Homo sapiens: one gene and its partners. The protein of the gene in region 1 interacts with the protein of each later gene in a pairwise test. Each region holds a gene or a part of one and is shown on either strand. Other genes may lie near its edges.

Evidence for each region.
Region 2: the proteins of KASH5 (region 1) and PPP1R18 interact in binary tests that used the Homo sapiens proteins (3 or more experiments, as listed by UniProt).
Region 3: the proteins of KASH5 (region 1) and TMEM11 interact in binary tests that used the Homo sapiens proteins (3 or more experiments, as listed by UniProt).

What each region holds. Positions count from the first base shown.
Region 1 is NC_000019.10:49,405,170-49,408,815, reverse strand, and holds part of KASH5 (protein KASH5), read right to left. Parts: intron 1,931-3,646; coding exon 1,853-1,930; intron 1,577-1,852; coding exon 1,520-1,576; intron 1,205-1,519; coding exon 1,145-1,204; intron 1-1,144. UniProt on the Homo sapiens protein: As a component of the LINC (LInker of Nucleoskeleton and Cytoskeleton) complex, involved in the connection between the nuclear lamina and the cytoskeleton.
Region 2 is NC_000006.12:30,684,520-30,688,265, reverse strand, and holds the start of PPP1R18 (phostensin), read left to right. Parts: upstream 1-1,620; 5' UTR 1,621-2,219; coding exon of another isoform or gene 2,220-2,247; coding exon 2,248-3,746.
Region 3 is NC_000017.11:21,200,758-21,204,257, forward strand, and holds part of TMEM11 (transmembrane protein 11, mitochondrial), read right to left. Parts: intron 1-3,500. UniProt on the Homo sapiens protein: Plays a role in mitochondrial morphogenesis.

The DNA of each region.
Region 1 (3,646 bases):
ATGACAGAATGTTAGGAAGCCAAAGAGAGAGAGCAACAGGAATCCAGAAGCTAAAGCACAGGCCAAGAGGCCAGGCGCAGTGGCTCATGCCTGTAATCCCAGCACTTCAGGAGGCCCAGGCGGGCAGATCACAAGGTCAGGAGATCGAGACCATCCTGGCTGACAGGGTGAAACCATGTCTCTACTAAAAATACAAAAAATTAGCCGGGCATGGTGGCACACGCTTGTAGTCCCAGCTACTTGGGAGGCTGAGGCAGGAGAATCGCTTGAACCCAGGAGGTGGAGGTTGCAGTGAGCCGAGATTGCACCACTGCACTCCAGCCTGGGTGACACAGCCAGACTCCATCTCAAAAAAGAAAGAAAAAAAAAAAGCACAGCCAAGACAATTAAAAGAAGGAAGGCAGAGGCAGAGATGCATGAAAAAATGAGACATAGATGGAAACAGACTCACAGACAGGCAAGAGAAACATGAGGGCTAAGAGACTGGTAAAGACCAGAGCCAAACAGAGAAGACTTGCCTAGGGAGACAGACAGCCTAGACCTAGAGGCAGAGACAGGAACCCACACGAGCCTCGCAGAGACACATAAAGATAAGGAGGGGAGGCTGGGTGTGGTGGCTCACGTCTGTAATCCCAGCACTTTGGGAGGCCAAGAGGGGTGGATTACGAGGTCAAGAGATCAAGACCATCCTGGCCAACATGGTGAAACCCCGTCTCTACTAAAAACACAAAAATTAGCTGGGCATGCTGGCATGCACCTGTAGTCCCAGCTATTTGGGAAGCTGAGGCAGGACAATCGCTTGAACCTGGGAGGCAGAGGTTGCAGTGAGCCGAGATTGTGCCACTGCACTCCAGCCTAGCGACAGAGCAAGACTCCGTCTCAAAAAAAAAATAAGATAAGGAGAGGAGGTGTGTGAGAAGACACCCACAGAGAATGAAAGTGAATGGAAGGAACAGAGAAAAAGTGAAAAGGCAGATACAGAAACAGAGGGGGAGACATGCAGTCATACAGTCATACATCAAGGATGGAAGAAGCAAGATGTGGCCACTGACAAAGAGGCACGAGGAGGAGAGGCAGCAAGTCCCAGAGATGGCAAAAGAGAAGTGGCGAGGGCCGCGGTGGGTGGCGAGGGCCGCTGAGTTACCTGCGTCGTCACTCTGTATTCTTCCAGGGTCTGGGCCAGGCTCTCCACATCGCGAGTGCGCTAGGAAAGCCGAAAGCCAAATGAGACTGGGACCAGTTCCCCAAAGACACTGGGGGTGGTGGTGGCGGGGGGACTGGCTGGGGGGTTAAGGGACAGGGTGAGCTTGAGGGAAGAGCTGGGGCACAAGGGAGAGCACCGGGCAGAAGGGCTTCTAGATCCCTGAGGGGTCACACTTGGGACCTGGGGAAACCCTCCAGTCTCTCCAGCTGCACATCCAAGGATCAGACCCAAGTAGGACTTCCCTTTCTAGACCAGGGGCAGGAAGTGGCTGGTGCACATGGAAAGCGAATCTCTTTCCCTCCCGGGGCCCCTTACCTCAGAGAGGATGGTGTCTCTTTGGCAAATGAGGTGTTCACACTCAAAGAGCTGCCGCTGCCAAGAAAGGAGCCGGTCCATCCATCCAGCCTCCCAGGACTCCCCTTGGTCCTGCCCTCCACCTGGCCCCACCTGTTCTCTCGCACCCCCACGTATTCAGCCTCCTGAGATGTTCCAGGACTTCAGGGATTTTAGGGATGCCTGGGTGGTCCTGGGAGCCTGACAGCTTGATGGAAGACCCTGCCCTTATCAGGCTGCAGTCACTAAAACCGGAAATGGGAAAAATGGCCCCGGGGTGGTGGAAAGTTGTCAGGCACTAGGAAGGAGTGGCACCTTCAAAGTGTCCTTCTCCATGGCCAGCTCCTGACTTCTCTTTTTCACTCCATCCCGCTCGGCAAGCAGCTTCCCGTTCTAGAAGAAGGAATGGCTGGTCACGTTCATTCCAGCAAGTGGTAATGTCAAAATTAACAGCAGATATTTGCTAAACACTTGATTGATATACATCAGGCCTCATGCTAAGCACTTCATATGTTTTAACCCATTTAATTCCTCCAACCATTCCAGTGGGACCACAGCTTTAATTTCTTTGAGTGTGGCTCCCCCATCTATAAAAATGGAGCTAGGCCACGCGCAGTGGCTCACGCCTGTAATCCCAGCACTTTGGGAGGCTGAGGCGGGCGGATCACAAGGTCAGGAGTTCAAGACCAGCCTGGCCAACATGGTGAAACCCCGTCTCTACTAAAAATAAAAAAATTAGCTGGGCATGGTAGTGCGTGCCTGTAATCCCAGCTACTCAGGAGGCTGAGGCAGGAGAAATACTTGAACTGGGAAGACGGAGGTTGCAGTGAGCCAAGATCGCCCCACTGCACTCCAGCCTGGGCGACAGAGCGAGACTGTCTCAGGAAAAAACAACAACAAAAAAACGGAGCTTAACTAGGACCTACTTTATGGGATTGCTGTAAAGATTAGATAGGTTAATAATCGCTAACACTTACTGAGCATTTTGCATGTGTTGACTCATTTCTTATCCCCAATTTTAAAATCAAAAGAACAATATAAGCAGCCTGTTATCCACATTATCTATCACCCAGCTTCAATAATTATATGCATTTTCTCGGTTTTGTTTAAACTGAGATGTTTCTCCTCCAGATTTTTTTTTTTTTTTTTTGAGCCAGAGTTTTGCTTTTGTTGCCCAGGCTGGCATGCAATGGTGCGATCTTGGTTCACTGCAATCTTTGCCTTCTGGGTTCAAGTGATTCTCTTGCCTCAGCCTCCCTAGTAGCTGGGATTACAGCCACCTGCCACAACACCCAGCTAATTTTTTTTTTTTTTTTTTTTTTGAGACGGAGTTTCCCTCATGTTGCCCAGGCTGGAATGCAATGGCATGATCTTGGTTCACTGCAACCTCTGCCTCCCGGGTTCAAGTTATTCTCCTGCCTCACCCTCCCAAGTAGCTGGGATTACAGGCATGTGCCACCACGCTCAGCTAATTTTGTATTTTTAGTAGAGACGGGGTTTCACTATGTTGGCCAGGCTGGTCTTGAACTCCTGACCTCAGGCGATCCACCTGCCTCCACCTCCCAAAGTGCTGGGACTACAGGTGTGAGCCACCGCACCCGGCTCTCCTCCAGATGTTTTAAGTAGATTACTTTAAAGCAAATTGCAGGCATCATATTAGTTCACCTGTAGTTACTCCAGCATTTATCTCCTACTTGAGGACTTATTTCCTTTAGCAAAACCACAATACCACTATCATACTTAACAAAATTAACAATAACTCAGTATCATCTCATACTAGAAAGTTTGTGCTCCTTTTTCTTTCTTTTTTTTTTTTTTTTTTGAGAGGAGTTTCACTCTTGTTGCCCAGGCTGGAGTGCAATGGCGTGATCTCGGCTCACTGCAACCTCCGCCTTCCAGGTTCAAGCGATTCTCCTGCCTCAGTCTCCAGAGTAGCTGGGATTACGGGCACACGCCATCACACCTGGCTAATTTTTGTATTTTTAGTAGAGACGGGGTTTCACCACGCTGGCCAGGGTGGTCTTGACCTTCTGACCTCAGGTAATCCACCCTTCTTGGTCTCCCAAAGTGCTGGGATTACAGGGGTGAGCCACTGCACCGGGCCTGTGC
Region 2 (3,746 bases), on another chromosome or scaffold:
AGGGTCTGCAAGTTCAACGGTCATAGCTGTCCCTCCAGGCCCCAACCTTGCCTCACCACTCCCGGCCCTAGTCTCTGCACCTCCTTAGGCCCTGCCTCTGGGCTCAGACCCCAACCTAGTCAAGGGGATTCTCCTGCTCTTAACTCGATGACTTGGGGCTCCCTGCTCTCCCGAGGAAGATGCTCTGCAGGAAAATAAAAGTCAGCCTTTTTCTACATATGGCATGCAGTCTGTCAGTGTCTCCCAAGCTACAGGGCTGAGTTTGGGAAAGAAAGCCAGAGGGAGCCTGGGAGCACCGAACTGGAGTCTGGGCAGCCACCACGCCCTCTGGCAACCGCTGGGGTTCGGCCACCCCCGCAGACCCGCCCCCACTTTGCCAGAGCGGCCGGGTCCCCATTCCCATTCCTTCAAATCCCCTTTTTCCCGGCAGCCGACCTGTAGACCCAAGGGAGACAGGTTGAAGCTAGAAAGAGTCGGGGCAGCAGCTCTGGTAGGGGAGGGAGCATCCAAAACCTCTGGCTTCTGAGCGCCTCTCCTGCCGCCCATCCACAAAGCCCCCCACAGCCTGGCGGCTGCCCTCGACCCCGCAAAACAAAGGACTTCAGAGGCTGGACCTACAGACCCAGATGAGAAGGCAAAAGCGTAGGGAGGAGCGGCAGGAGATGGGAAGGGCGGGCCCCGCTCGGAGCAGCTGCCGCTTCCTCCCAAAGTCCCACGAGGGGCCTGAGTCACGGGCCACCGCCCTGGGTCGGCGAGCTGGGGGAAGGGATCTGGACACCTGGCGTGTCCGGGCGGGAAGCTGGTGAGGGCCCCTGGGGACAGAGCGGAGGACCAGTGGTTGGGGCGAGAAGAGGGCAGTCCCGCAGCGAGTCCCACGCGGGGTGGGAGGGATCTAGGCCCCGCCCTCTCCTCGGCTCCGCCCTGCGCCCCCTTCCCTCTCCTCATTGTCCTTAGACAAAGCGGTCGCCGCCCCCGCCCGGCCCCCTGGTCTCTGTCTCCGTCCCTCCTCCTTTGCTGCCTCTTTCCCTCCTCCTCTCCCTCCCTCCTCCCCTCCCTCCAGTCTCCGGATCTCCCTCGGTCCCTCTCTCCTCCTCTTCCTCTCTCTGGACGCCCGGCTCCTCCGCACCCCCTCCCCCGGGGGTCCCGCGGCCTGTGAGTTGACTGAGGGGCTCAGACTTGGGGAGTGGGTGTCTCCTCGCCCCTGTCCTTGCTCCCGTCCCTGGCCCGGACCTTGGCTGTCTCCTCTTTGTGCCGAGATTGTCAGTCTGTGCGGCTACAGCGGGGTGGAGACGGCCGGCTCTGTCACGGCTTCATGAGAGCGGGGACGGGGCGCAGGACTTGCAGGCGCCGGGGAGAAGAGACATGGAGCCGGCCCTTGGCACTCTGGGGTCGCGTGGGGCAGTCGGTGGGGGAGGCAGGCGGTGGTGACAGGACAGGGTGGGGGTGGACGCCAGGGTTCTGGGAACGCGCTGGCAGCCCTGACGCCCGGGTTCCGAAAGTCTCGGGGGTGGCTATTTCCCCCGACCCGCCTCGGGGGCGGAGTGCGGGGCAGAGGGGTGGGGGCTGGGGAGAGGCGTGGCCCGAGCGGTGCTGGAAGCGGAGCCGGGACCTTTGGGGCCCGCGCTGAGACGCGCCCGGCTGCTGCCGCCGCCCTCCTTTCCCCTCTTCCCTGGTTTCCCTTCTCCTCTAGACCTGTTCGCTCTCCGCCCCTCCTTGCCTCCCCAACACCCCCTCAGGTCCCGTTGCCTCCTGGTCCTTTCAGGGATTCCTGGTCCTTCCTTCCCACACTAGCCTCCCTGGGGTATCGCTGAGGCAGCCTGGCCTGCACCCAGGTTCCCCTCACCCCTGCCACATTTCTCTCTTCTCCCTCACGCCAACTTTCCTTTTCGCCCTTCTCTCTCTTTCTCACATCCTAGAGACGGTCTTTAATACGCATTAACCCTGTGCTGCCACATCTGGCTCCTGCCCTCATTGCCTCCAATCCGGACTCTTCCTCTCACATCACCCCCACCACCCCCAACTTGGGCTCACAACTTCTCTTCACTTTTTCCATTTCCCCAGTTCTCTGCCTTCCGTCTTTCCCTCTGTCCTCATCCTTAGCCCCTCTGCCCTGCTTTGTGTCCCACCTCTCCCCCTCCACTTCCTCTCCTCCCACCCTCAGTCTCACCCCCGGGCTGTCTCACTCTCTGGAGCCTCTCCTTCCTGTTCTCTGTCCCCAGTGCTCCCTACCCTCACCTCAAGACGACCATGGCCACCATCCCAGACTGGAAGCTACAGCTGCTAGCCCGGCGCCGGCAGGAGGAGGCGTCCGTTCGAGGCCGAGAGAAAGCAGAACGGGAGCGCCTGTCCCAGATGCCAGCCTGGAAACGAGGGCTCCTGGAGCGCCGCCGGGCCAAGCTTGGGCTGTCCCCTGGGGAGCCTAGCCCTGTGCTAGGGACTGTAGAGGCTGGACCTCCAGACCCGGATGAGTCTGCGGTCCTTCTGGAGGCCATCGGGCCAGTGCACCAGAACCGATTCATCCGGCAGGAGCGGCAGCAGCAGCAGCAGCAACAACAACGGAGTGAAGAGCTGCTAGCAGAGAGAAAGCCTGGGCCTCTGGAGGCCCGGGAGCGGAGACCCAGCCCTGGGGAGATGCGGGATCAGAGCCCCAAGGGAAGAGAGTCAAGAGAAGAGAGACTAAGTCCGAGGGAGACCAGAGAGAGGAGGCTGGGGATAGGGGGAGCCCAAGAGTTGAGCCTGAGGCCTCTGGAGGCTCGGGACTGGAGGCAAAGCCCAGGAGAGGTGGGAGACAGGAGCTCCCGACTGTCAGAGGCATGGAAATGGAGGCTGAGTCCTGGAGAAACTCCAGAGCGGAGTCTGAGACTAGCAGAGTCTCGAGAGCAAAGCCCCAGGAGAAAAGAGGTGGAAAGTAGACTGAGCCCAGGGGAATCTGCCTACCAGAAGTTGGGCCTGACAGAGGCCCATAAATGGAGACCTGACTCCAGAGAGTCTCAGGAACAGAGTTTGGTACAACTGGAGGCAACAGAGTGGAGGCTGAGGTCAGGAGAAGAAAGACAAGACTACTCGGAAGAATGTGGGAGAAAAGAAGAGTGGCCAGTTCCAGGGGTAGCTCCAAAAGAGACTGCAGAGCTGTCCGAGACCCTGACAAGGGAGGCCCAAGGCAACAGTTCCGCAGGAGTGGAGGCAGCAGAGCAGAGGCCTGTGGAAGATGGCGAGAGGGGCATGAAGCCAACAGAAGGGTGGAAATGGACCCTGAACTCCGGGAAGGCTCGAGAATGGACACCCAGGGACATAGAGGCTCAAACTCAGAAACCAGAACCTCCAGAGTCAGCAGAGAAGCTTCTGGAATCTCCCGGTGTGGAGGCTGGAGAAGGGGAGGCTGAGAAGGAGGAGGCGGGGGCTCAGGGCAGGCCTCTGAGAGCCCTGCAGAACTGCTGCTCTGTGCCCTCCCCCCTCCCACCAGAGGACGCTGGGACTGGAGGCCTGAGACAGCAGGAAGAGGAAGCAGTGGAGCTCCAGCCCCCACCACCAGCCCCTCTGTCTCCCCCACCCCCAGCCCCAACTGCCCCCCAACCTCCTGGGGATCCCCTCATGAGCCGCCTGTTCTATGGGGTGAAGGCAGGGCCAGGGGTGGGGGCCCCCCGCCGCAGTGGACACACCTTCACCGTCAACCCCCGGCGGTCTGTGCCCCCTGCGACCCCAGCCACCCCAACCTCTCCAGCCACAGTTGATGCTGCAGTCCCGGG
Region 3 (3,500 bases), on another chromosome or scaffold:
CTCAGTGTGCACAGACGCGAAGGTCCCGTCCGCCCAGCCTGTCCTGGCAGGCACACCTGGCTGCGGTGCAGAGGAGAGTCATGGGGAGCTGAGCCACCTGGCCATTGGCCGTAATATGGGAGTGACGAGTGAAGACATTCATAACAAGCCACCCCAGAACCTCAGCCCAGCATGAAGGTAACTCCCTCCAGCCTCCTTCAAAGATGGGAGCAATTCCAAGTGAAGGATGGTGGAAATCGGACTGTCGGGAAACTTCAAGGAAAAAGAACAGGCAATCGTAGTTCTTCCTACTACTGAGACTCCTCCCAGCTCAAAGCTTTCAGCAAACAAATAAGCAAACCTAACAGGCAGGGTTGCATTCTGGTTGGATAAACAACTAGTTAACGATCTCATGTGGCCACATTAAAGATGAAAGTCATTGGTAATGGGCTGACTGTGCCCCCAAGCATGGGGACCCTAACCCCGCCCCTGGGTGGGAACCACTTTCATAAAAGGCACTGGCTTGGACTTGGGCAAACGGAACTCTTTATCCTGAAAAAGTCACTGTAACTAAGCCAGGCTAAGGCAAAGCCTCCTAATTCAATCATAGGCCCTAATTAAACGGCATGCACTGGGGAGAAATCAGTGCCCTGAGGGTGGGACAAGAGCCTCCTAAACATGGGTTGCTGCCAAGCCACCTGTGACTGTGCCAGTGTCACGGCTGCCTCGCCAGGGATGAAATGATGAGCTGTTACTGTAAGACTGCACGAGCAGCTTATGAAATGGGGAAAGGAGGGTTTTCCTTCTAAAGTTCTCGGTGGAGTTTTTCCATTTGGTCTTAGAGGAGAGGTAAGGGAGAGGCCAGCTGTTACTTCCAGGTAGGATTCAACAGTTTTTATTTTTGAGACAGGTTCCTGCTCTGTCACCCAGGCAGGAGTGCAGTGGTGTGATCTCTGCTGATGGCAGCCTCGACCTCCCGGGTTCAAGAGATCCTCCCACCTCTGCCTCCCGAGTAGCTGGGACTACAGGTATGTGCCACCACGCCTGGCTGCCTGGCTAATTAAAAAAATTTTGTTGTACAGATGGGGTTATGCCATGTTGCCCAGGCTGGTCTCGAACTCCTGGGCTCAAGTGTTCCACCCGCCTTGGCCTCCCAAAGTCCTGGGATTAACAGGCATGAGCTACCGCATCCAGCCAGATGCAGCATTTTAGAAGCTACCTACAGCAAACAAGCACACCCAAAGCAGGGTCTTCACTGGCGCTGGAAAGCTGAAGGCCGAGCAGTGCCCCCACGTGCTCAGATGAGAAATGAGTGGCGGTGGCGCAATGGGCTGGCTGTGGCCCTGGGTGTGCGGGGAGGGGCGGGGCCTCCACTCTCAGGTGGGAGCACTCCTGGCCAAGAGAACTCCCTTCTGGTCTCAAGTCCATCAGGCAACAGGAGCAGAGAGGCCAGATAACAAGGTAGGGGTGGAGGACCAAATCGTGTCCCAATCTTGAGACGGAAATGGAGTTGCTTCCAAGTCAGCTGTGCATCCTACTGACTGTCAAAGCCAGGCCAGGGACACCTTGGGGCGGGCACCAGAGGCGGGCTTCCTCCCTCAGGAACACTCAAAGCAAAAGGGAGGTGTCAAGCTGGGGTTACACAATGTTCTCGCCAACACCCAAATCCACCCTAGTGCGGTACCTTTCTCTGCCCAGCAGGCCAGCGCCATCCTGAATGTAGTGAAAACCACTGTTGGTCCCACAGAGGAAATTCCAGTGGAAACCCCGGTCCTGGAACCGACTGCCCCATCTGGAAACACAGCAGTGGGCAGATCCCACCCCCTCACCCCCTCCGGCCCCCCTGCAAGCCCAGCTGGCACCCACATCCACCCAGACCCCTCTGCAGGCTCCATCGCTTGCTGGGACGGATGGGTGGGTGCGTCCACGAGTCCCAACCAGCCTGGAAGCAGCGAGAAGCCAAGGCCCTCCAGGCTCCCTCCCACCTCACTGCTGTTGCCAGGTGTGGCCCGCCCCCCAGCACAGGGAGTGAGGAGACTGGGCATCCTCTGCCCTCGGCTGTGGGCAGTCCTGTGAATGACACAGCCATAAGCAAGCACGTGGACATGGGGGCACTCGCCAGCACACATCCTGAGATGGTGGCGTGGGTCTGCCCCCACCTGCCTGTCAAACCATGGCCCCGGCCTCCTGCAGCCTCGGCGTCTTCATATGGGCTGGGCACTGTTGCTGCCCACTGTCTAAGACACCTATCCACAGCAGAAACACAAAGGACATAAGCCACACTGCCTTCAAACAAAGGCAGGGTCCTGCACAACGGCGCTGAGGCCAGAGGCTCACCAATTCTGCTTTTAAAGCCAGTTAGGCAAAGGGAATCTCGGTTTCCACTGGGAAAGGACAACACGTGAAGTCTAGGGAAGTGGATTTCTAGGATTCTATAAGGCAACAGACCCTATATGGAGACGGTAAGGTTCAAACCAAAACACACACAGACGCACCCAAAGCCGCAGGATCCCTCCGTTGGAGCTCACCCGGCCACGACCAGGCAGTCAGCACTCCAACTTCCTGGTACACTGGTGGGAGTGGGGTGCTGTCAGTGCAGACACAGGTTTTTTAGCTGCCACTGCTGGGCCCTTGGGTTCAGGTCTGCACTGCTGACAGGGACTGCTGCACTTCTCTTACTTCAGAAATTCGTGGCCATGACCAGGTGCGGTGGCTCACGCCTGTAATCCCAGCACTTTGGGAGGCAAAGGTGTGCAGATCACTTGATGTCAGGAGTTCGAGACCAGCCTGGCCAACAAGGTGAAACCGTCTTTACCAAAAATTAGCCAGGCGCGGTGCTGCACACCTGTAATTACAGCTACTCAGCAGGCTGAGGCACAAGAATCACTTGAACCTGGGAGGCAGAGGTTGCAGTGAGCCAAGATTGTGCCACTGCACTCCAGCCTGAATGACAGAAAGAAAAAAAAGAAAAAAAAAGAAAAAAGAAACTGCCAAGTACTCCCAGGAGACAGCCACGTCCAGCCAGCTCCTGACCACCCAGCAGCCACCCGTATATGGCTTGCTTCTGCTTGTGGGTCAAACAAAACCTAATGAAGGAAAGAACCCAGTCAGAAGGTTATCTCAAACCACTGCAGAGCATCACCAGCTGCCCCCTAACTGGTAAGGCCATGGGCTTTAGGAACTGGGTGATCTGAACCCTGGTGCATGGGAGATCTTTTTTTTTCCTTTTTTTTTTTTTTTTTAAATTATATGGACTTTTTTTTTTTTTTTTAAGTAAGAGCTAGTTGGAATCTTTTGAGCCCTGGGCTTCCTAAGGGACTGTATTTTTGCTTTTCATTGCAGGTGTGAAATGACCAGTAAGAGAGCAATTAATAGAGTCTATGTTTAAAAAAAAAAAAAAAAAGAAAGAAAAAGTGGCCAGGTGCAGTGGCTCATGCCTGTAATCCCAGCACTTTGGGAGGCCAAGGCAGGCGGATCACCTGAGATCAGGAGTTCGAGACCAGCCTGGCTAACACGGTGAA